4 separate regions of the Homo sapiens genome follow, and regions 1, 2 and 4 are each linked to region 3. Evidence: fine-mapped expression QTL. A gene starts in region 3. Each other region holds a variant in brackets. All regions are shown on one strand. Distances are between the middles of the regions.

The links. PIP is the estimated chance that this variant, and not a neighbour inherited with it, causes the effect.
Region 1: its variant is the best candidate, but not a certain one, in a credible set for the expression of TMEM18 in whole blood (INTERVAL, PIP 0.50).
Region 2: its variant is the best candidate, but not a certain one, in a credible set for the expression of TMEM18 in whole blood (INTERVAL, PIP 0.59).
Region 4: its variant is the best candidate, but not a certain one, in a credible set for the expression of TMEM18 in gastroesophageal junction (GTEx, PIP 0.59).

The regions. Positions count from the first base shown.
Region 1 is chr2:651,061-656,207 of GRCh38, forward strand. No RefSeq gene overlaps it. Among named protein-coding and RNA genes, the nearest start is that of TMEM18-DT, 24 kb to the right of the region's middle. The variant G/A (reference allele first, on the strand shown) is at 2,155.
Region 2 is chr2:618,922-624,068 of GRCh38, forward strand. No RefSeq gene overlaps it. Among named protein-coding and RNA genes, the nearest start is that of TMEM18-DT, 56 kb to the right of the region's middle. RefSeq lists an enhancer at 1,369-1,958. The variant T/A (reference allele first, on the strand shown) is at 2,439.
Region 3 is chr2:675,024-680,170 of GRCh38, forward strand. It overlaps TMEM18 (transmembrane protein 18), which reads right to left and starts at 2,383. Exons shown (of 5, transcript NM_152834.4): 1 at 2,266-2,383; 2 at 487-607. The coding sequence starts at 2,322. TMEM18-DT (TMEM18 divergent transcript) reads left to right here and starts at 2,349. Exons shown (of 3, transcript NR_183417.1): 1 at 2,349-2,450; 2 at 5,021-5,128. RefSeq lists enhancers at 1,658-2,423, 2,326-2,425, 2,456-2,525 and a silencer at 1,916-2,165.
Region 4 is chr2:1,397,807-1,402,953 of GRCh38, forward strand. It overlaps a transcript of TPO not described here. Among named protein-coding and RNA genes, the nearest start is that of TPO, 13 kb to the right of the region's middle. The variant A/T (reference allele first, on the strand shown) is at 2,147.

The DNA of each region.
Region 1 (5,147 bases), 24 kb before region 3:
CTTCAGAGGCTGCAACGGGACCCCCACACGTCCCTGCATTTAGAGGCGAATGAGGTAGAAAGATCAATACCTGAGTTTTCTTATTCCTTGTGGCTGCAGCAGATGTCATCGTAAAATGGCTCCATCACCTTGGAGGCATGGTCTGACGTGAAGGAGACGGTCCTGCTTGGCCCATGGAGAAGGCTCTAGTGCGTCTCGGAGCCACCATCATTTTTTTCCCTTTCCATTCATACCTGCTGCCGGCAAAGGACCCAGCCTTTGGGATTTACAGAAAATAAGGAGTTGAACTAAATAACAAACAAGGGGCTGCTAATTAGAGCGTATGAGTCCATTTTCATCCAGAGCGTCTTATTCTATCTTCCTCATGCATGGGCTCTGCATGGTTCTGCCCAGTTCCCTCTTGCCTGGTTTTTCAGTTATTTGTGGATTCTTAGAAATTCTCCATATACTCTGGACATAAATGTCTTTGCTAATTATTAATCTGTGTGCTGCCAACCTTCTACCAGTTTCTATGTTTTCAAATGACTTGAAGATGTAGATTTTGTTGTAACTGGCCCATGATTCTTGTGCATCTTTACGGCGTAGACAGTGATGCTTTGATGCATGCCTGTGCCACTCAGGTCAGGGTAATTAGCATAGCCATGCAAACACTGACCACGTCTTTGTGTAGGGAACACTCAGTATCCTTCCAGCTACTTGAAACTGTCTATTCTTGTTTACTATAATCTTCCTACAGTGGTGTGGAACAATAGAACTTTGAAAAGATAAATTCGTATTTTTAATGTAGTCAACTTTGTCCATTTTCTCTGTATTGTTAATGGATTTTTAGATCTTGTTTAGAACATTTGTCCTTGCACCAAAGTCAGAAATCTGTTCTCTCATTTCTCCTGTAGAAGGTTTAGGGTTTCAGCATCCACAAGTCCTTGAGCCATGGGAATTAACAGCTGCTGAGCTGTGAGGTCAGAGGCACACTCAGCCCGGGAACCATGGGCTGTTGTGGTGCCCGGTGAAGGCCTGGTCCCCCAGCTGCAGCCCATCCTTCCCACTGTGGCCTGTACCCAGCTGGGCCACACCTGGGCGTGTGGGAATTAATGGCTGCTGAGCTGTGAGGTCCGAGGTACATTCATTCCAGGAACCGTGGGCTGTTGCGGTGCCCGGTGAAGGCCTGGTCCCCCGGCTGCAGCCCGTCCTTCCCACCACAGCCCACACCCGCTGGGCCATACCTGGGCCTGTGGGGCCACCTATGAGTGCTTCCCTTCACTTCACCCAGACCGCAGTGCAGGAATTGCCAAGAATCCGTGAGCGGCCGTGGTATCCGTCAGAGCATGGGCTGCTCCTGTCCTCAGGAGTCTCTTGGCAGATCCAGGGCCTTTGCACTCAGGGTCACTTTCAGGTCACACTGGGCTGGGCTTGACTCTGCAGACCAATCTGGAAACCCCTTATGTGTGACATCAGCTTTTCTTACCTGTCAATATGGCATATGTTTCCATTAAGCCATCTTTACATCTTTTAAAACAATTTTGTAATTTTATTCATAAAAATCTTGTACATATTTTAGATTAGTTTCTTGGAAACTTACAATTTTGGTTGATATTGTAAAAGACATCTTTTATAAAATGCATTTCTAGCTGTCTATTTTGTTATAAAAACAAATTGATGTACATTGATCTTTATATCGAGTGATCTCCCCCAACTCTCTTGTTAGTATTTATCATCTATCTATATCTTATTTTGGGATTTCTCTGTAGAAAATATCATCTACGATTAAGAACACATTTTTTTCTTCTTTCTTTCAAATTCTTACAACTTTTGTTTGTTTTGTTTATCTTACTCTAGGATAGTGTTTTTATTTTCATAAGATTTCTTCTTTTCTTCTGAGAATGTCCTTATTCAACCTTTATTCTCAAGAGTTGAATTGATGGACATGGTTTCTGAGCAGCTGGAGGCTTCCTGTCTCTGTTGCTGGTGAGAATTTGCCTTTCACCTAGTCGCTGTTCCTTTGCAGGGAGGGAGACTCTCTCTGTGGCTTCCATGCTCTTCAAGCTTCCTGTGTTGGGCTCAAGTTCATGACCCCTGCCCTACTCACTTGACTGCTGGTCTCCATCTTTCCATTTTATTATCATAATTTTAATGGGGACTTGGAAGAAGCAGAGA[G/A]AAACAGCTGCTCAGCTGTCCACCTTGACCAAGGAACCCAGCACGGCCACAGAACCGACCTGAGGTGCGTAGAATGAGACCTGCAGGCTCAGCTGTCTTTCCGCAGTGTCCTCCCACATCCACACCTTCCATTTCATCGGCTCCTAAACCTCCTGCTTCTCCAATCTGGGCCTACCCCCAAGTGATGTCTTTTGAAAAATTAAAAACATATTGAACCTTAAATACAATCTTGTATGATTGCATAGTTTTCTCACAGACTGGGTACAGGCCACAGTAAGATTGCTGTAAATCAGTGGCTCTGTCAAGTCTTCCCCGTGGCTGAGATAATACAAGTGTTCATGCTTTCCTTCAACGCCTAAACGGTACGTTCCACATTGTCTAGGAGCTTGGTTCACTTCCACCTGGACTCTCAGCTAGGGGTGGGGAGCCACAGAAGGGGTGGTCAACTTCTATCACCGGCCCCAGTCTCTGCTTCCAGCTTGTGGACTTTGTATCTGTATGACCTTGACAGCTTCTTGAAACACCAGCCACAGTGCCTGGCGTGTAGTAGCCTCGCATATTTGGGTGCCAGGGAGCTGACCCACTGGAGGTGGAGGTCCTGACAGTGAGCTGAGGCTGTCCTCATGGCGTCCACTGTGGGAAGCATGGGGCACCTGGGGCCTGGGGGTTCCCATCCATTTCCCAGGGTTCGCAAAACATATGCCTCTATCTACTTCTTAATGTGGGACAAATTCCTTCTCGTACCCAAACCATGTTTCTCCATGAGGTTCTTAGATTCTCCTCCCAAGCACCCTTTTCCAGCACAAATTTATTATTTCCCTGCTGTGCTGCAGCCCCGGCTCCTCCTGGCTTCGTGCCTCACACACCTGCCGCTGTCTCCTGACCGGGTCGCAGTGTCAAGTTCTTTACACATGTGTACGTGCAGAGCGGACACACAGACACCGGAGAAGGTGGGAACACATGTGGATGTGCAGAGCGGATGCACAGACACTGGAGAAGGTGGGAGGTGGGGAGTAGCTGAGGGCTGGGGAATTGCCTGTGGGATATGATGCTCACTATTCGGGTGACAGCTGCCCCACCTTCACCACCACACAATCCATGCGTGCAAGAAATCTCCACCCATCCCCTCCAAGTATATAAACATATGATGAGAAGGAGAAACACTCTACACAGAGAATGTGACCCAACCTTGCTTCTCTGTCCACTTCCTGCTCAGCTGGCACACAGAGTAGAGCATGGGCACCTCCCAAGACCACCATGGCCTCCTGGTGAGGAGGCAACACCACGGGCTTCCAGATCTCCTTGTGTGTTCCTCAAACTCTCCTTGCCGCTGAGTGTAGGACGCTGTTTTCTGTCTTCGGTGCTCGCTCTTCTGACATCAGAGATTGACAGCACTGAGTCAGGAAGGAGAAAAGGACTCTGGCTTTGGGCCACGACAGCTCCAGATCCCATACCAACATCACTGTGGACTGCAGAATTTTTCATTTTTCTGGAAATCTCTTTTTTCATCTAAAATATGGAAATAATATCATTTACCTTACAGGGTTGTTGTGATGAAATGGTTCACTCAAAACCACTTCCCAGGAGGTTTCTGATGTAAACATGGCTCCCAGCACTGGGGCACAGGGAGGACAGGCTCTGCCCTCGGGATGCACACCTTCCAGTGTGCATTTAAGGAAGTGCAAGCGAGTTCATCAGGGAGCAGAATGAGTTTAGATAAAACTTCTGTAATATAATATAAAGTGGGGCTTCTGGGTGGAGATGAGTGGGTGACACTTTAGATGGGGGCCCAGGAAGTCCCCTCTGAGGAGGTGATGGCCGTGCAGAAGCAGATCAACATAAGCCTCAGCCAGAGGCACGCTCTGAGCAGAGGCGGAAGCCTGCTGGGGCCACTACGAGGAAAGACACTTGTTCTACAGGATCAGTGCGGGTGCAGCACTCTGAGTAAGTTACCATCCTAAAAATGAGGCTCTCCGTGGAGGCCACGTCACAAAGGTTGTCATACACGTGGTGCAGGCATTGGGTTTTATTCTGAGGACCTAAGAGCGATGGAAAATTCACCACAGCTCTGCACAGGCAAAGGAGGTTGTCAGATGATGAGATTTTCTAAGTGAAGTATTTGAGTCTCACAGAGGAACATATGTATTACACATCAAAGTTATAAAGCCTAAGAAAAAATGAACACTGTGTTGTCTATGGCAAGTAGAACATTGTCAAACCATTAAAATATACCTGGACACTCCTCCCCCAAGAGAAAACCACATAATTAATCACACAGAAAAAATCAGCAGTGGCTGATTGCATTTTCCAAAGACGGCACAAGACAAGCCCTCATCACACTTGCTCCTTCACAGTGGGACTCTGACTTTGACACACCTACCAGGATATGGGGTGCCGTGTCCCTGTCCTGGGTCCCAGGCAGTCTTTGTGACTTCCCCTGTGAGTGGGATGACATGGGATGAAAAAGTGATGCACCTTGTTGTCTTGAGACTTTTGTTCTTGGAACCAGCCACCTTGTTGTGAGGCAGCCCAAGAGGCCATGAGGAGGCCTGTATGGCCTGCCCTGCCATGGCCCCAACCCACAGCCCTTGCTGCTGATCAACACCAACCAGCTAGTCACAAGGGCAAGTCCATGTGGAAAGTGAAACTTCCTGCTGCCCCAAGCTGAAGTGTATGAAGCAAAGGCAAGCTGTCTCCTGGGATCTCTGCCCAAGTTACAGATCTGTGAGCAACACTGTGACTGCTGCTGTTTTCATTAGCTGAGGCTTGAGGTTGTTCATCACAAGGTACTAGTAAGTAAAAGAGATTTTGTACCAAGACTGGGGTGCAGCCATAAGAAAACCCAATGCATGTGTCCTTAGTGCTGGGAAGTGAGAGGCACCTGAGGGCCTTAAGTGTCTGTAACAGGAGATGTTCTAGATTTTCCACATTAGGGATGAAGTGCTGCGATTACTTAACTGTTTAGATAGTCTTTATTAAGTTACAAAAGTTTT
Region 2 (5,147 bases), 56 kb before region 3:
GCAAAGCCAATAACCCAGTGGGCTTAGCTCCGCTTTGGGGCTCACCTGCCCTGTGTCTAAAGGAGAACAGGATAGATCCAGGTGCACAGTGAGGGATTTTAAAACACTTGTATGTGAGCAATGTTAAAACCACAGTGTGGAGGAATCAATGCAAAGAACTGAATGAAATTTGTAAAATGCTACTATTTATGAAAAATTCAAAATAAAAATACATGTGGACAAGATGACAATGCATATTTTATATAACTTGTGGAAAGCCACATAGTAAACACTATGGAATGGCTGATGGAGGCAGAGGGAAAGAAAGGAAGAAAGGAAAGCAGAAAAGAGGAAAATCAGGTGAGGTGGAGGAAAGAAAAAGGGTCAGAGGCTTTGCTCAAAAGAGCAAGGAGGACCATGTGCTAGGAGGGAAAGATGGCGTCCACTCCTGTCTGCCCCTGCGACCAACCTGGCCAAGCAAAGCAACGCAGCAGAGTGGAGTGAGGAGAGGCAGGGATGACAGGCAGGCTTCATCCAGCGCTTCTCTCAAAACTGCTGCCTGTCATTTGTGCTTTCATTAATTAATATAATCTTAGTTTTGATCTTAAATCAACACTATTTAGCACCGCACTACGTTACTAAACAATACGTATCCACTAAGAGAGAACTTATACATTGTGTATCTAAAATGGCACAAATTAAAAGTATTTTTAAGTATTATAAAGGTTTACATTTAAATGCTTTGTGTTTTACGTTTCCTTCTATTTCCCAGGGTCCCCTTTTTCATGCAGGGCAGAGTTTTGCTTCTATTTCGTTTTGCTTAGGAACCCTCCCTCAAAGTTCAAGGCTAGATGCACCTATGAAGTTGCAGTAACTTGCTAGCCCTGGGAACCTGCACTCCAGTTAAACATCCTACCTTTTCTGGTCACACTTTAATGACTGGCAGCAGAGTCAGGCAATGGGGACCTCCCCTCGCCAGGCCCTGTGCCTGAGAGGCCTCTCTGGGCAGGGTGGGGTCTGGGTGCAAAGGCTCCCGGGAGGGTGACTGTGGGCATGCAGGAAGAGGGGCCTGCAGCAGGGATGTGCCCATGGCTTCAGCAAACTTCCCTCTCCCTGAAAACTAGAAAAACAAGGACAAAACCACGAAAAATCAGCATGCTCAGGGTACTGCAGAATTTCAGAAAGGTGTTCCAAGGTGGGAATGCCGCAGGAGTGTGAGCCTCTCACCACAGCCCTTCAGCTCCTGCTTGGACAGGCACAACCTGGCAGGGAAAGGCGGTGTCTGCAGCCCGCAGGAGGAGACGCTCTGCGGGGAGGGCGATCGCCCAGAAGTGCCCAGGAGTTGGCTTCGGAGTCGGCACAGTCGTCTCTCCTCCCTGACCATGAGGAGGGGGGCAGAGGTAGCCCACCGGTGACATTTTAGCCAGGGTTAATGGCCATAGCGAGACCAGCGAGGGTATAAATGGTTCAGGAAAAAGGTAATCATTCAACTGTGAAATTACAAGGAATCTGGGGGGAAAAAAGAAACAGAAACTTATTTTAGAATAAATAGCTCCGTTCAGCTTAAAAATGAATTGCTCATTTATCTTAAAATCCTTGATCATCACCAGATTCCAGCATTCATATTTATAAGAGAAAAACAACAAAAAATTAGTAGTTCATTTCATTTTCCATCCTGACTCAGAGAAAATCAAAACTGTGGCTGAATGTCTTTTCTAAATTAGTGGCATGTGGCTGGGCGGGTGACGTCATCGCTAGACATCTAGGGTTGCAGCTCAGAGGAGCCCCGAGTTCTTCACGTGTGGACCCTGCGAGCAGCCGAGCTCTGGGGTCACCGCGTCCCCGCTGCGCGTTGCGGAGGCCACGCCAGGCTGCCCGGATCCACGCGGGAAGGCGGGACTGGGGCTGAGAGAGGCCGCAGCTGCCCGGTCCAGGCCTGCGGCTCCTCTGTCATTATAATTAGGGTCCATTGTGCTCCCAGAGTTTCTTGATTTGGGTGAGAGATGATATGGTGATCCTAAACTCAGCTGTGAGAACGCGCGCTCCGGAGCCAACTGCCTGCCCTGGGCCTGGTCCTGCGCCTCCCACGGCCGCTTCCACCTTCACGCGGCAGGTACGACGCCTCCCCGCAGGCTGCCCAGGGATTCAGTCCCCACCGTGCATACAGTCGGTGCCACATAAACGCTTCCATCCCCGGAGCACAGGGAGCCACGCCCTCAGGTCGGCCTGCTCCACTTCCTTCCCAGCCTCCGGCTGGGCGCGCCCCTCTCCGCGGTCCGGTCCTTGGAGGCCACTTGGGGGCCGCGGATGTCCGTGCGCTCTGGGCTCAGGTCCTAGAGGCGCTCCGAGGTCAAGGGGGCGCGCAGGCGAGTCTGAGCCTCCTCCGCCCTGGGGCGCGCGCAGTCGGGAGCCTCCCTCTCTCCCGGGAGCCCTGGTTTGGCGACTCAAAGGCGGAGGTG[T/A]CCCTGGAGAAAGCTCACATCAAGGGACCAGACCCAGCGCCGGTGCCGGGGAGAGGAGAGAGGGCCCGGCCATGTCATCTGAGGCCCCGAGTCCAGCTGTCACCTTGTCTCCAACTCTCCTTTCCAGCAAGTAAACCCCGCTTTTGCTTGAGGCAACACGGTCATCCAGACCCTGAGAACTGAAGAAACCCTGGTTTTCCACCCGATAGGGCCGCTCCCTGGGGCAAAGCCTGACTTCCAGGGGGCGTCTCCTAAAATCGGTTCCCAGGTTACGTGGAGGTACTGGGGGAGTGGGATGTCTTCTGCGCTCTCAAGGAGGACTGTAGAAAAACGTCTTGAGCGCTAAGAACAAAAGACCGTCACAGGGGTTGGCCCTGGGGACCAGCCAGAGCGGAGCTGTGCCTTCGCCCCGGTCCTGCGGCCGCGTCCTGGCGAGTGGAGACAGCACCCTAAGCGGCGGCCCAGGCAGGGAGAGCGCGTCCTGAGAACAGGCAGCCCACCCCACGTGGCCAGAGCTCTGCTAGGGTAGTGTCCAGGCAGAGCCCAGGCCAGCTGGGATCCGGCGCTGGGACCGCAGACCCGAACAGTGTGTTCTCCCGGGTGGCTGCGTCCCTCTCGGCCTTCTTGGAGCCCGTCCCTGTGTTTTATTGCACATTAGGGCAATTGTTGTGAACTCACCCTGGCGTGTTCCCAGGCGAGCACGGCCACCTTCTCAGGTCCCTCTGCGTACACGCATTTAGATTCCCACAGCTTAAACAGACACAATGCAGGAAGCAGCCCTTCCCGTGCCATGGAAAGATGGCATAGATTTCTGAAAGTTGAAGCCTCTTATTTGCCATCAAAGTTCAGGAAGATTTTAAAGACCTTTCCATGATGTCAAAATGAAGAACAGTATTACATACAAACAAATCTCAATTTGCCTCGACTCTAGTGAATCTCACAAAGCTGATTTGCCTCTTTTCAGGAGAATGACTCTCACAGTAAGTCAGCAAGGTTACGTAGATGTTCATACTGCCGCTAAATAGCTGGGAGCAAAACACCTTCACCATTCTGCAGGGTTACCGGAAACGCTGTTTCCAATTCTAATTTATTTTGATTAGCATTACGTAAGGTACACGGCCACAGCCTGGCCTTTGATGAATTGCTTCATCTTCCAGGCAGTTTCACCTGACGGTTTCCGATGATGCTTCAAACTTCATGGGAGGAAGAGGGGCAGCAGCTTGCATCTCATCAGCTCCCTAATGGAGCGGCAGCCAAGCTCAACTCATTATCTTACTTTGGAGTCACTCACCCAGAGCTGTATGCATCAGCCGTTAGGGATTTTTGAGGCCTGTTATATTTGAGACTAACATGGAAATAAAATATGCATTTCTTTTTGTGCTGTTCCCTCCTGAATTTTTTCTTTATTAGTTCTGGGGGTTGCATTTATGGCAATATAAAAGGTCATTTTCTAGTCCTGACTTTCACTGTTGCTTATTTTCCATGCTCCAGATAAAAACAAACTAGAAGTATGTTGGAAGGAAAATGCATTATGATACTTTAACAATATTTCATAATGAAATAAATCTTGGGTTGTATTTGAGCTATTTATGCAGAAACAAAAAATGAGTGGGCTCATCTGTAAAGGTCAGATGACATTTATTCAATAGAAGCATTGTGAAATACCAGGACAGGAATATGCCCCATAAAATAACTTATTTTCAGATTTGTGTTAAGTCATGAATTCAAGTTAGAGGTCACATTTTGTCCAGGCCTAATACCAGCTTTCCAGTCACTGGTAGCATTGACATCCCCTTGGACAGAGAAAGCACATATTAAAAATTTTAAAAGCCAGAAAGGAAAGGAAAGTCACTGCTGTTGTTGACCAATCTTTCTGTGCAAGACCCTGCGTGAGGGTCTTTACCGATGATTTCATTTACTAATTTTGGCATCAGCCTGGGAGAGGCATCATTATTCATGCTGTGCACGTGAGGGAAGTAAGGCCAAGAGACGTCACAGAACTGATTCAACACGCACCTTTAAAGCCCACCCATATTTCCATGATGCCAACCCTAAACCATGATGTGACCTGCTCCTGGGAAAATGTCTGCTGTCACAAGGTAAAGGAAGATGATCTTGTGTTCCCAGAGGCATGCTGGGCATTCAACGTGAGACCGGCTTTCCAACCAGCTGCAGGCGCTGGGGCCAGGAGCAACACTGCAGGCTGTGCTGATGACTGCTTCAGCTCTGTGCTTCATTAAAAGCTGAACTCTCCATCTCCTGGGACCCTAAATGATAGATTATTCTCATTCCTGACATCAGCAGAAGGTATGGTGTCTAGGTGATGCCACAGTCAACCGAGGTCACCAGCCATGGGCTGGGGCGGCGTGGGTGCTGTGTGAGTGTCACCCTCTAAAGCAAATGGAGGATGGTGCTGGGGCCCTGGAGCACTGAGTCTGTAGGCAGAGGAGAAAGGAGCTACCCGTTCACAACGTGGCTTCTAGAAGTTTCTTCAGCCAAGGAAGTTCTTCTTCCTGCAGAACCCTGAAGCTCCATTGTCCATTGATAACTAGAGATTGAAACAACGGAGAGGCCTCGCTGATCAGTTTAAGGAGAAATTCCATGTTTGTTTTCCTGTTTCCATGAAGGGACCTTTTTTTTTCATTTTTTATTGATGCATAATAGCTGTATATTTGCAGGGTACATGCAATATTTCAATACATGTCTACA
Region 3 (5,147 bases):
ATTTCAGCTTTTCTGAATAATCTTTCTCAGTCATCCTGTGCAACTCCCTAACTTCTCTAAGTTCTGTAGCCCTTATCCTTGAAACCAAGTTGGGCAATGCCTTATTTTATGCACAGAACTTTTCTTTCCCAGTTTGCAATCTTCCTCCCATTCAAAGCAGTGCATGAGCACAGCTGCCACCAAGGACGCATCTTGTGTAAAAGACAGCACTTCCGGAAACCCAACTCTCCTGTGTGCAGCTGGTGCTCAGCACCTCCCTGGTAGGCAACAGGAACTCAACAGATTCCTCTCAACTCTAACATCCAAAAAGTAGTTTTCTTTATAGCTTCCAAGAGTGAAAAACGGGAGTGCCCTGGGAGCAGGCACATGACAGAGGGTTGGGAGGTCTTGTAAAAATATGTATATATTTCGAAGACACAGACAGAACATACACAGTTTCATTTCACACAGTGATCTGAGTTGTGGAGTTTGTGTTGTTTTACTCACCTAGACACAGAAAGTGCCCGATCTGTAGTCTGTAGCTTCGGGAGGACAAGCAGGTGAGGAGCACGCAGAGCGCGTGGAAGGTGGCCAGCCCCATGAGCCAGGGCTCAGTCCAGTCCGTCTGCTGTAGGAACACACCAGCAGACACTCACTGTCCTGCCACTCAAGGCCGGGTTCACGGCCCACCCACAGCCTTCTCCCAGCGCAGGAGGCAGGGGCCTCTCACTCCTGAGTCCTCCTGGGCTACTCACCAAGTATCCAGAGAGCATTGCCAGGCCTCAGAGAAACATGGGGACAGGAAAGGGAGAAGGAACCAGGAGGATGGAAACAGGATTCTCCCCTCAGTGCAACTATAATTCATGGAATTCAAAGTTCAAGCACACAGAACTGAAGGCATCTCTGATGTGCTCCTTTCGTTTGTGGAACAGAATCATGTTTTTAAGGTGGGTATAATTAAAGGAATTACCATCCTTTACGATGATAATTGGTTATGATAATTGGTGACGACAAGGAAATTAAGACGATTGCTCAAAGAGATGCACTTGGCTCAGCCCCAAAGGTAAAACATGAATCATCATTTCAGACTCCTTAGTCAGCACTGAAGACCTCAGGGAATCTTGAGCCATCGCCACGTGCAAGACTTGATTTTCTCCAACCTCTCTGCAATACACTGAACTCTCCAGACAGTGCCGCACTCCGCCGCCTCCTGGACTCCCCGGGACCCTGCTGTACCTGGGGACAGTGTCTGGCTCAGGGACCTGAAGTAGCCAGGCTCAGATCCACTGCTGCTCAGTCCCCACCTGATGCTCAGATGCCAATCCCAGCAGTCCTCAACCCTCCCCATCCCCTCCTTGAGCGCCCTCCTGCAGAAGACAAGCCCTGCCCTCCAAGCTGCAGCCCCGCCCTGCCCTCCAAGCTGCAGCCCCGCCCTGCCCTCCAAGCTGCAGCCCGGCACAGCCCTCCAGAACTCCTGTGTCACTACTCTCTGCTGGGGACCGCAGCGGCTTCTCCAGAGCCGCGCCATGACATAAGGACACAAGCGCATCTACTCCCATCAATGCACCCACCAGAAGACCAGAGGCACGGAGGTGAGGGGAGCACGGCTTTCTGCCCAGACCCCATCGAGTGCCCATGTCACCCCTTGGCGGCCACGTGGGGCGTGGGCTCCCCTGGGATCTGTCAGACGAACCCGGCACGGCGCACGCCCCGCCCACACTGGGCAGCGTTCCTCCGTGCCACCCCACACGATCAGGCTCCACCACGCACGCCCCGCCGCACTGCCAGAATCCGCCCACATGGCCCAAGCCCCGCCCGCAAGACGCTGGACTGGCCGGCGTGCACCTCCCACACGAACAAAGCCCTACCCCTCGCGCTCCGCCCACACAACTCAGCCACGCCCGCACGGTGCAGGACGCCAGCCCAGCCCAAGCCCGGGCCACAGAGCGCCGGAGCCAGCTCACTGCGCACGCTCCTCCACAAGGCCCCGCCCGGCCCCGCCCCTCCCCGCCCAACGGCCCAGGACCCCGCCTAGCGCTCGCGCCCCGACGCCCGGCCCCGGCCCCCTCCCACAGGGCCCAGGACCCCGCCCACAGCGCGCGCCCCCGACGCCGGCCCCGAGCCACTCCCACAGGTCTCAGGACCCTGCCCAGCGCGCGCGCTCCGCCACAAGGCCCCGCCCACGGCCGGGGCCTTCTTGGCCACAGGCCGGGTGCTCTGTGGGGCCTACCCTACGCCTCTCCGCCGTCCTCCCCCGAACTGGTGGTTACGCGGGCCGCGAGTTACCGTGAGCACGGCTGGGATGCTGACGGGGAAAGAGCTGACAGAGAAGGCGGACGGCATGGTGTTGGGAAGCCCGCTCTCACAGCAACCGCCGAACCCGGCCTGGCCAGAATCCACAGAGGAGGGCGCCAAATCCTCTCTCGTGAGATCTGCCCTTCTCACGAAACTTGCGCTTGCTTCCTCTCGCGGTAATTTCATGGCATTGCTAGGTCCAGATATCGCGATATTTCCTGGTGGTCGCTGTAATACGGAAAACTTACTACGCTGCTGTGGGACTTGTGCTCGCTCCGCCAGGAGGCCGAGGGCGTCTTTAGTTCGTTAACAGAGGAGCAGGCGGAGGCGGGTGGAATTTAGGAGGTTTGTTTCAAAGGCTCAGGGCGCTGTACCGCCACGCCAGCCCTGTCCCACCTGGGACTCCCTAGAAGGGTCAGAGCATCAATGAGGACGGTGTCCGCCCCGAGACCCTGCAGGAGCCGGGGACATTGCCCACTCCTCGGACCCTGCAGGACTTGGGAAGGTGTCTGCTCTCGCGACCCTAAGGGCAGTGCACTCTTAGTCTGGGTCAGCTTAGGGTTATCTGTCTTCACTTTGGAGATTTACCAGATGTTCTTACGCTTCACTTCGTTGTTCAACGACAGATACAAAAATATAAAGTTAATTTTCTTCCAGCGAATTTTTTCCCTTTATTTTAACATCTATACCCCAACTTTGACATTTTCAAATTAAACATTCTGTTATTTTAACATCATGAATTATTAAGTGTATATACTTTAATTGCATATGTTAGCTCTTGAACTAGTTTAATGTTTCTAAAAATAGTTCTAGTGGTGGACTTTTTTTTTTTTTTAATAGCTTTAACCCCTCCCAGATCTTTCTTAAAATCTTTCCACAGTGTGGTCATTTCTGCTTATGCTACTTAACATGCATTCTCTCATTTCAGTGTAGAAGGTCATGGTTTCTTCTTATGGGAAAACATTTCTTTCATTGATATTTTTCTCTATTCTTCCTGTATTCAACTCCAGGAACATCCCGTTAGGTAGATAGTGCATCTTCCTCTCTTTTGTGTTTCTCAACCTTCCTCTCAAAACATCACGACTGTTGTTGCTGAGTTTGGGAAATCTCGGGCTTGGCTTTCCTGGTTTTTTTTTTTTTTTTTTAAGACGATGTCTCGCTCTGTCGCCCAGGCTGGAGCACAATGGTGGGACCTCGGCTCACTGCAACCTCCGCCTCCTGGGTTCAAGCTATTCTCCTGCCTCAGCCTCCCGAGTAGCTGGGATTACAGGTGTTCGCCACCTCACCTGGCTAATTTTTTTTGTATTTTTAGTAGAGACGGGGTTTCACCATGTTGGCCAGGCTAGTTTTGAACTCCTGACCTCAAGTGATTTACCCGCCTGGGCCTCCCAAAGTGCTGGGATTACAGGCATGAGCCACCGCACCCAGCTGGTGTGATGGTTTTCATCTGTGTCCATTCTCACTCCCCTGTGTTTGTTCAGCTATTTTCAACAGGACCTTTCAGTTACAGGGAATAGATCTGTCCTCTTCAGTTCAGCCTGTTACTGTGTATCTCCCTGATGATATTTCGTTACTATGTGAAACATCACTCTTATTAATTTCCATGGGTTAGTTTCATCGTCAGTCCTGTCTGGTGCCTGCCTTTCTTTTGTGGTGTCTGTTTTCTTGTAACTTCTGTAATTTGGGGTCAAACTCTTTTTGCTATTAATATTAACCACAGCCTATCTACGGTCACTGGGATTTTTTCTCTTCATCTTCCCCTCAGCCGCCCTCCCAGATCTTTCATATATTGTGCGCCCTGGCACCCAAGTTTCCAAAATTGTTAAAACTCTGGCCCTCAGCAGCTTCACTTTCAGTCCCAGGACATTCATCTTCCACATTCCTCCCGCCCTGCCGTTCTGAACAACGCTAGGCTGCCGGACATTTAGACGTGAAGCTTGTGCAATGTCGCCAGTCTGAGATGTGCTTTAATTTCAAACATACACCATCTTTCAAAGACTTTGTACCAAAATGTAAAATACATTATCAACAATTGTATTATTTTGCTTACATGTTGAAATTATATTTTGGACATACTGGACCAAATAAAATATATCAATAAAATTAATCTCTTTCTCTTTGCTATTTTAATGTGGCCAGTAGAACATGGCCTGCTCTCTCTGTTGGTATGTGAATGCTGACATGGACTCTATTCCATTTACCTGGAATTTTGTGCTTCCAGAAAAGACTGGATGAAGCCCCTCCCCTCCCTTCCCCTTCCCTCGCCACCCTTCTCTTCTCTTCCCTTTCCTTTTTTTTTTTTTTTTTTTTTTTTTTTTGCGTTTTGCTCTTGTTGCCTAGGCTGGAGTGCAGTGGCAGGGTCTCGGCTCACTGCAACCTCTGCCTCCTGGGTTCAAGCGATTCTCCCTGCCTCAGCCTTCCGAGTAGCTGGGATCACCGGCGTGTGCCACCATGCCAGGCTAATTTTGTATTTTTAGTAGACACGGGGTTTCACCATGTTGGCCAGGCTGGTCTCGAACTCCTGACATCAGATGATCCGCCTGCCTTGGCCTCCCAAAGTGCTGGGATTACAGGCGTGAGCCACCACGCCTGGCCCAATTTTGTTTATTTCTAAAATAGCTATTTAATCCACATACAATTGGTTTTCAAGAGCTTTATTAATGGGTAAAATAAGTTTGTGAGCTGTAATGTTTTCTACAAATTAAAGCCAGTACTTGATAGCTTTCTTGTTCTTTGCATTGCTCAGGTCCCAGCAGGCAGCTGATTGTTTAGATGGAGAGACCACAGGGGAGAGTTACCTGTTGCTGTGGGAGCAATGAGGAGTTATGGAGGAAAGGAGAGGTACCAAGACCAGGTCTGTGCCCTGTGACCCA
Region 4 (5,147 bases), 720 kb after region 3:
TCCTCTCTGCACAACCCCCGATGTTGTCTCTCCTTCCATCAGCCCCCAGCAGAGCATTTTCAAACCCAGACACATGTCAGAAGCTCCTTTATCCAGCTCCCATGGGGCGTACCTGGGGTCAAAACTTCCAGAGTTCCAAATATGCACCTTGTGCAGAAAAAAGTACTTCCCATGCCACAAACAAAGGGTACAAGAAAAGTAGCGTTCCGCACATTTTCAGGCATGCAACTTCATCTCTTGGTTAAGCTCCACTTCCAGACAGTGAAGGAAAATAAATCCAGTCAACTCCAAGAAAAACCAGGCATAGTTTTCATTCCTCCCTCACTCAGGGATGACTCCGGTGAGGGACAGGACTGTGGCCAGGGCTTCTGTCTTTTCCCCACTCTCTGCTGGCATCTCCCCATCAGTCCTAGGGGAACCACAGATGCCTGCTGGCACCCAGTGATGTGTGGTGGCCTCCCTGTATCCTGCAGGCAGCCTGGGGCCCATCTCCTGACTGCCGCGCTGCCCACAAACTACTGTTGCCTTTGGATCACTTCTATGCCAGCTCTGGCACGGCTGGAAACTTGTGGGTTTCAATCAGGCCATCTCCCCAGACACCCACACCCCACGCCTGCCTGGCTTCCCACTGCAAACAAGGCTGGCCACCACCCGGCACCAGCTCAGAAGCAAAGACCACTCCATGGGTTCTCAGACCTCACCCAGTGGGCGGCTCCTGTTGTGGCCCCAGCATTGCAGACATCACAGGCGGAGACCTCTGTCCCTTCTCTGCCTCCCCACAGCTCAGCATTTATCTAGCTGGGCAGGGAGGGTCTGGACAAAACTGCAGTGGGAGAGGTCATGAATATCACCTGGTTCATGTGCAGGCAAGCCCTGGTTTCCTCCTGCACCGCTTGCGTGGGGGTCTCTATCTCTGGCTTTGTGGGGGTGCCCTTCCCCCAAGGAATGGGGTGCTGGGGCCAAGGCTCTCCTTGCAGCCCAGCTGAGGATTGCAGGGGCCAGGGAGTGCAGAGAAGGTGCCTGGAAGGTTGTGCCCCCTCACCTGCAGCCATGACCCAGGACTGACAGAGGGTGGGGGGCGCTGGCACCAAACTCCTTGAGCAGCCACTGCCAGGCCCCTGAGGAAGCTCCAGGCCCAGGAGGCTGGGCTCTCCCTGCAGCCAGGCCCTCACCTCCTCTGCAAGCCACGCTCACATTCTCCTTTCCAGGAACCAGACCAGAGACATTTCTTCCCTCTTCTGTTTCTTGGAGACCAGCCCCACCTTCCCTGCAGGTGCATTTCCCAGGTGGCGGCTGCAGTTGTTTCTGCAGGACAGGACTCTGGGTTCACCCATGCCCTCCTCTGTTCAGCCATCCCTCCCTTGTCTGCCCCAGGTGAGTCCTCATGAAATGTCCAGCCCCCCCGAGGGAGGCAGAGCCACGTGCTCTCCAAGCCCTCCTGGGCATCATCACCAGATTGCATTTTCTGCGCGGAGCTTCTCCAGCAGCATCAGCAGCCTGACGATGGGCTTCCAACTCTGGCCTTTCCAATACAGCAGCCCCCTTATCCAAAGGAGAATCTTTCCAAGACCCCAGTGGACACCTGAAGCCATGGAGAGAACAAGTCCTATGTATGCTGTGTTTTCCTACACACATACCCACGGTGAAGCTTAGTTTATAAATTAGGCATAGTAAGAGATCCACCATAACTGATAATAAAACAGAACAATTATAACAATACCCAGAATGATGCATGATTTAAAACCGATGAGTTGTTTATTTCTGGAATTTTTCATGTAATATTTTCAGACTGAGGTTAACCACAGGGAACTGAAACTGCAGAAAGCAAATCTGAAGATCAGAGGCCCTGTTGCCCACCCTTTCCATCTCTGCAGATCTCCAGTGCCTCGGGAGCCTCTCCCATCCCAGGGCCTGGGGCTCCTGCCTCCTCCCCATGTGGCCTCAATCTGCCTTCCTTGCATGAATTTCTCTGAAGGACACCTGTCTTCACTCACTCACACCTCTCTAGGAGCACCAGGTTCTGCAAATAGGAACAAGGCACATCAACGGGTGCACAGGAAAATCCTTACATGGAAATCTTACTTGTTATTTGACATTCATGTTTAGGTGAGTGTCCTGCATTTTACTGGTAGCCCCACTTAATGGG[A/T]GCTGCCACCCATGGCCGCCACCCTTCCCTCTTCTCCAGCCAGACGCCCCTGGGCTCTCTTCCCCTTCCCAGTGTGGACATTCTTGACCTTTATTTTCAGCCCTCATGTGGCACTGTCCCTGTCTATTTTCTGCAGTAGCTTCTTGCATTTAGAAAAAATTATGTTTGAAATGTTATTATCAAAGATAGGGGAGAGGCTCCTAGGTTATAAAAAAATACTTGAAGTTGCAACCAGCTATTAATTGAAAACCAAAAATAGGCCAGCTGCGGTGGCTCACGGCTGTAATCCCAGCACTTTGGGAGGCCGAAGCAGGTGGATCACTTGAGGTCAGGAGTTTGAGACCAGCCTGGCCAACATGGTGAAACCCTGTCTCTACTAAAAATATAAAAATTAGCTGGGCGTTCTGGCATGTGCCTGTAATCCCAGCTGCTCGGGAGGCTGAGGCAGGAGAATTGCTTGAATTTGGGAGGCAAAGATTGCAGTGAGCTGAGATCACACCATTGTACTTCAGTCTGGGTAAAGAGCTGAGATCGCACCATTGCACTCCAGCCTGGGTAAAGAGCTGAGATTGCACCACTGCACTCCAGCCTGGATAAAGAAGTGAGACTCTGTCTCAAAAAAAAAAAAAAAAAAAAGAAATATTTGTGACTTTACATTACATGCGTCTCAAAAAAAAAAAAAACAAATTTCACTTATGATGTGCAAAATTGCCCAAGCAGCACAAATGAAAACGTAAATTTCCTTCACGTTTCAGTGGAACTGATGCAGGCTTTTATTGTAGCTGTTAGTTTATCCAAGATTTTTATCAGCAAGAATTGAAAATTAACTTCATGTGGAGTCTTCATGTCTTGTCAAGTCAGACATTAATGGGTAAGCCAAAGGGGATCTTTTTAAAATGCCTTTTTCTTTTTACAAAAATCTCAAAAGCTGGATTCCTTTCTAATCATGTATCCTTGTGGCAAAAAATCCAGCAATACAAGTAAAAAGGACATTCCTTTTCCAAGCCTTCCTCGTGGCCTGAAGTAACTGTTGTGCGTCATAGTCTCCTGTGCTGACTTTCCAACCTGATGTCTGTCCTTGTAGGTCTGGATACTCCTCACCTTGCTGTAAGCTCAGAGAGCTTCACCTCCAGTCCCCTCCAGGAGACTGAGGCTCCCATTAGCAGAGCCTCCCATATCTGTGCCTGCAGGTTGGCCTGAGCTGTAGGCAGCGTGCACATCACAATCACCCTGCTGAAAGAAAGTCACCCTGATAAAAGTAAAACTTTAGGCAAAACACATTGAAGTGAGTTTACTTGACCATTAGAAGACTCGTGAATTGGGCAGCACTCGGAAACAGAGGAGGTTCAGAGAAGAGCGAGGGCAGTGACCTCTCAGATGGATGGGGAAGGAAGACAGAGACAATGCACCCAATCAGTTAGAGCAGGAGCCCCAGCCACAGGGGAGTTGGTGGTTTCTGATTAGTAAAGTCGCTAGTTCTCTTTTTCTGTTTACAATGGGCTTTGGTTTGCTCACTCAAGAACCCCAGCCCTGGAGCCTTCCCAGCCTAGTGTCCTCCCAGCGAGAATGCTGACACTACCCACCAGGCAGCTACACCCATGACCCAGCCAGGCCAGCTACAGCCCCATAGCTCCCCTCAGGACCAGACAAGCAGAGCCTGCACAGCCCTGAGCTTCTCCCTCTGCCCATCCTGCTACCTCCTCCTCCTGGCATGGGTTTGATCCCTAATAAGCATTCTGTACCTCAAATCCTGCCTCAGTGTCTTCTGCCAGAGTGTGGGCTGAGCAGGTGCCTTGAACCAATATCTCAGTGATGACCTCCCAGGAAACTCTAGCCTGCAAAGCCACTCTGCAGCACATCCTGAAAGTACACACCCCTGTGGGTATTTGTCTGACTGTTAGGATAAATTCCAGATTTGGAACTGTGGGTCCAAGGGTATAGGTTAGGAGTCAAAGGGCACTGAGTGCCGCGAGCCAGCCATTTACTCAGAGATCCTACCGAGCAAGCCATGAGACAAAAGCCAGCCAGACCCACGCAGGCTGTGTGAGTGGGCAGGTGGAGGGCACCCAAATGCTGCTTCCTGGCTGCTCCTCATCTGGATCAGAGAATGTTGCACAGACTTCAGGATGAAAGGGCTGACGGTTACCTCTGGCCACATCTCCATCCTGTGGATTCCGTATGCAGCCAAGTGGGCCCCAAGCCTCTCCACCTAACCAATGCCTCAGATGCAAGTGGCCCAGGGCTCATCCAGGGACCACCTGTAAAGGCCACCCTGCCCAGTGAGCTGCGGTCGGCATCCACGGGAGGACTCCCTGACTCTGGGGGCAGATAGTGAAAGAGGAAGAGTACCCCCTAAATCCCACAGGGAAGGCACAGGAAGCAAGACTGCTGGTAATGCCTGGCCCCGTGGAATCTCCAGACCCCGAAGGACCTGCTTAGGAAGAGACGGGAGCACAGAGCAAGCAGGGAGCCAGCCAGTCTGGGAGCCAACACGGAGCCAAGGGGGGTGGGGGATTTCCTGTTTCCTCAGTGAATTAGTCCATTTTCGTGCTACTGATAAAGACATACCCGAGACTGGTCAATTTATATAAAGGAAAAGAGGGTTAATGGGCTCACAATTTCATATGGCTGGGGAGGCCTCACAATCATGGCAGAAGGTGAAAGGCATGTCTTACATGGTGGCAGGCAAGAGAAAATAAGAGCCAAGCAAAGGGGGAAACTTCTTATAAAACCATCAGATCTCATGAGACTTACTCAGCACCAACCAGGAGAACAGTAGGGGGAAAACTGCCCCCAGGATTTAATTATCTCCCGCTGGGTCCCTCCCACAGCACCTGGGAATTATGGGAGCTACAATTCAAGATGAGATTGAGGGGGGACACATCCGAACCATATCACCCCATATTTTGTACATCTTGAATTTGGAAACTGAGCGCCAGTTTGTTTCTCCAGAAAGGTTCCCATCTGCATTTCCACCAGTGGTGAATGTGTGAGTCCTTCA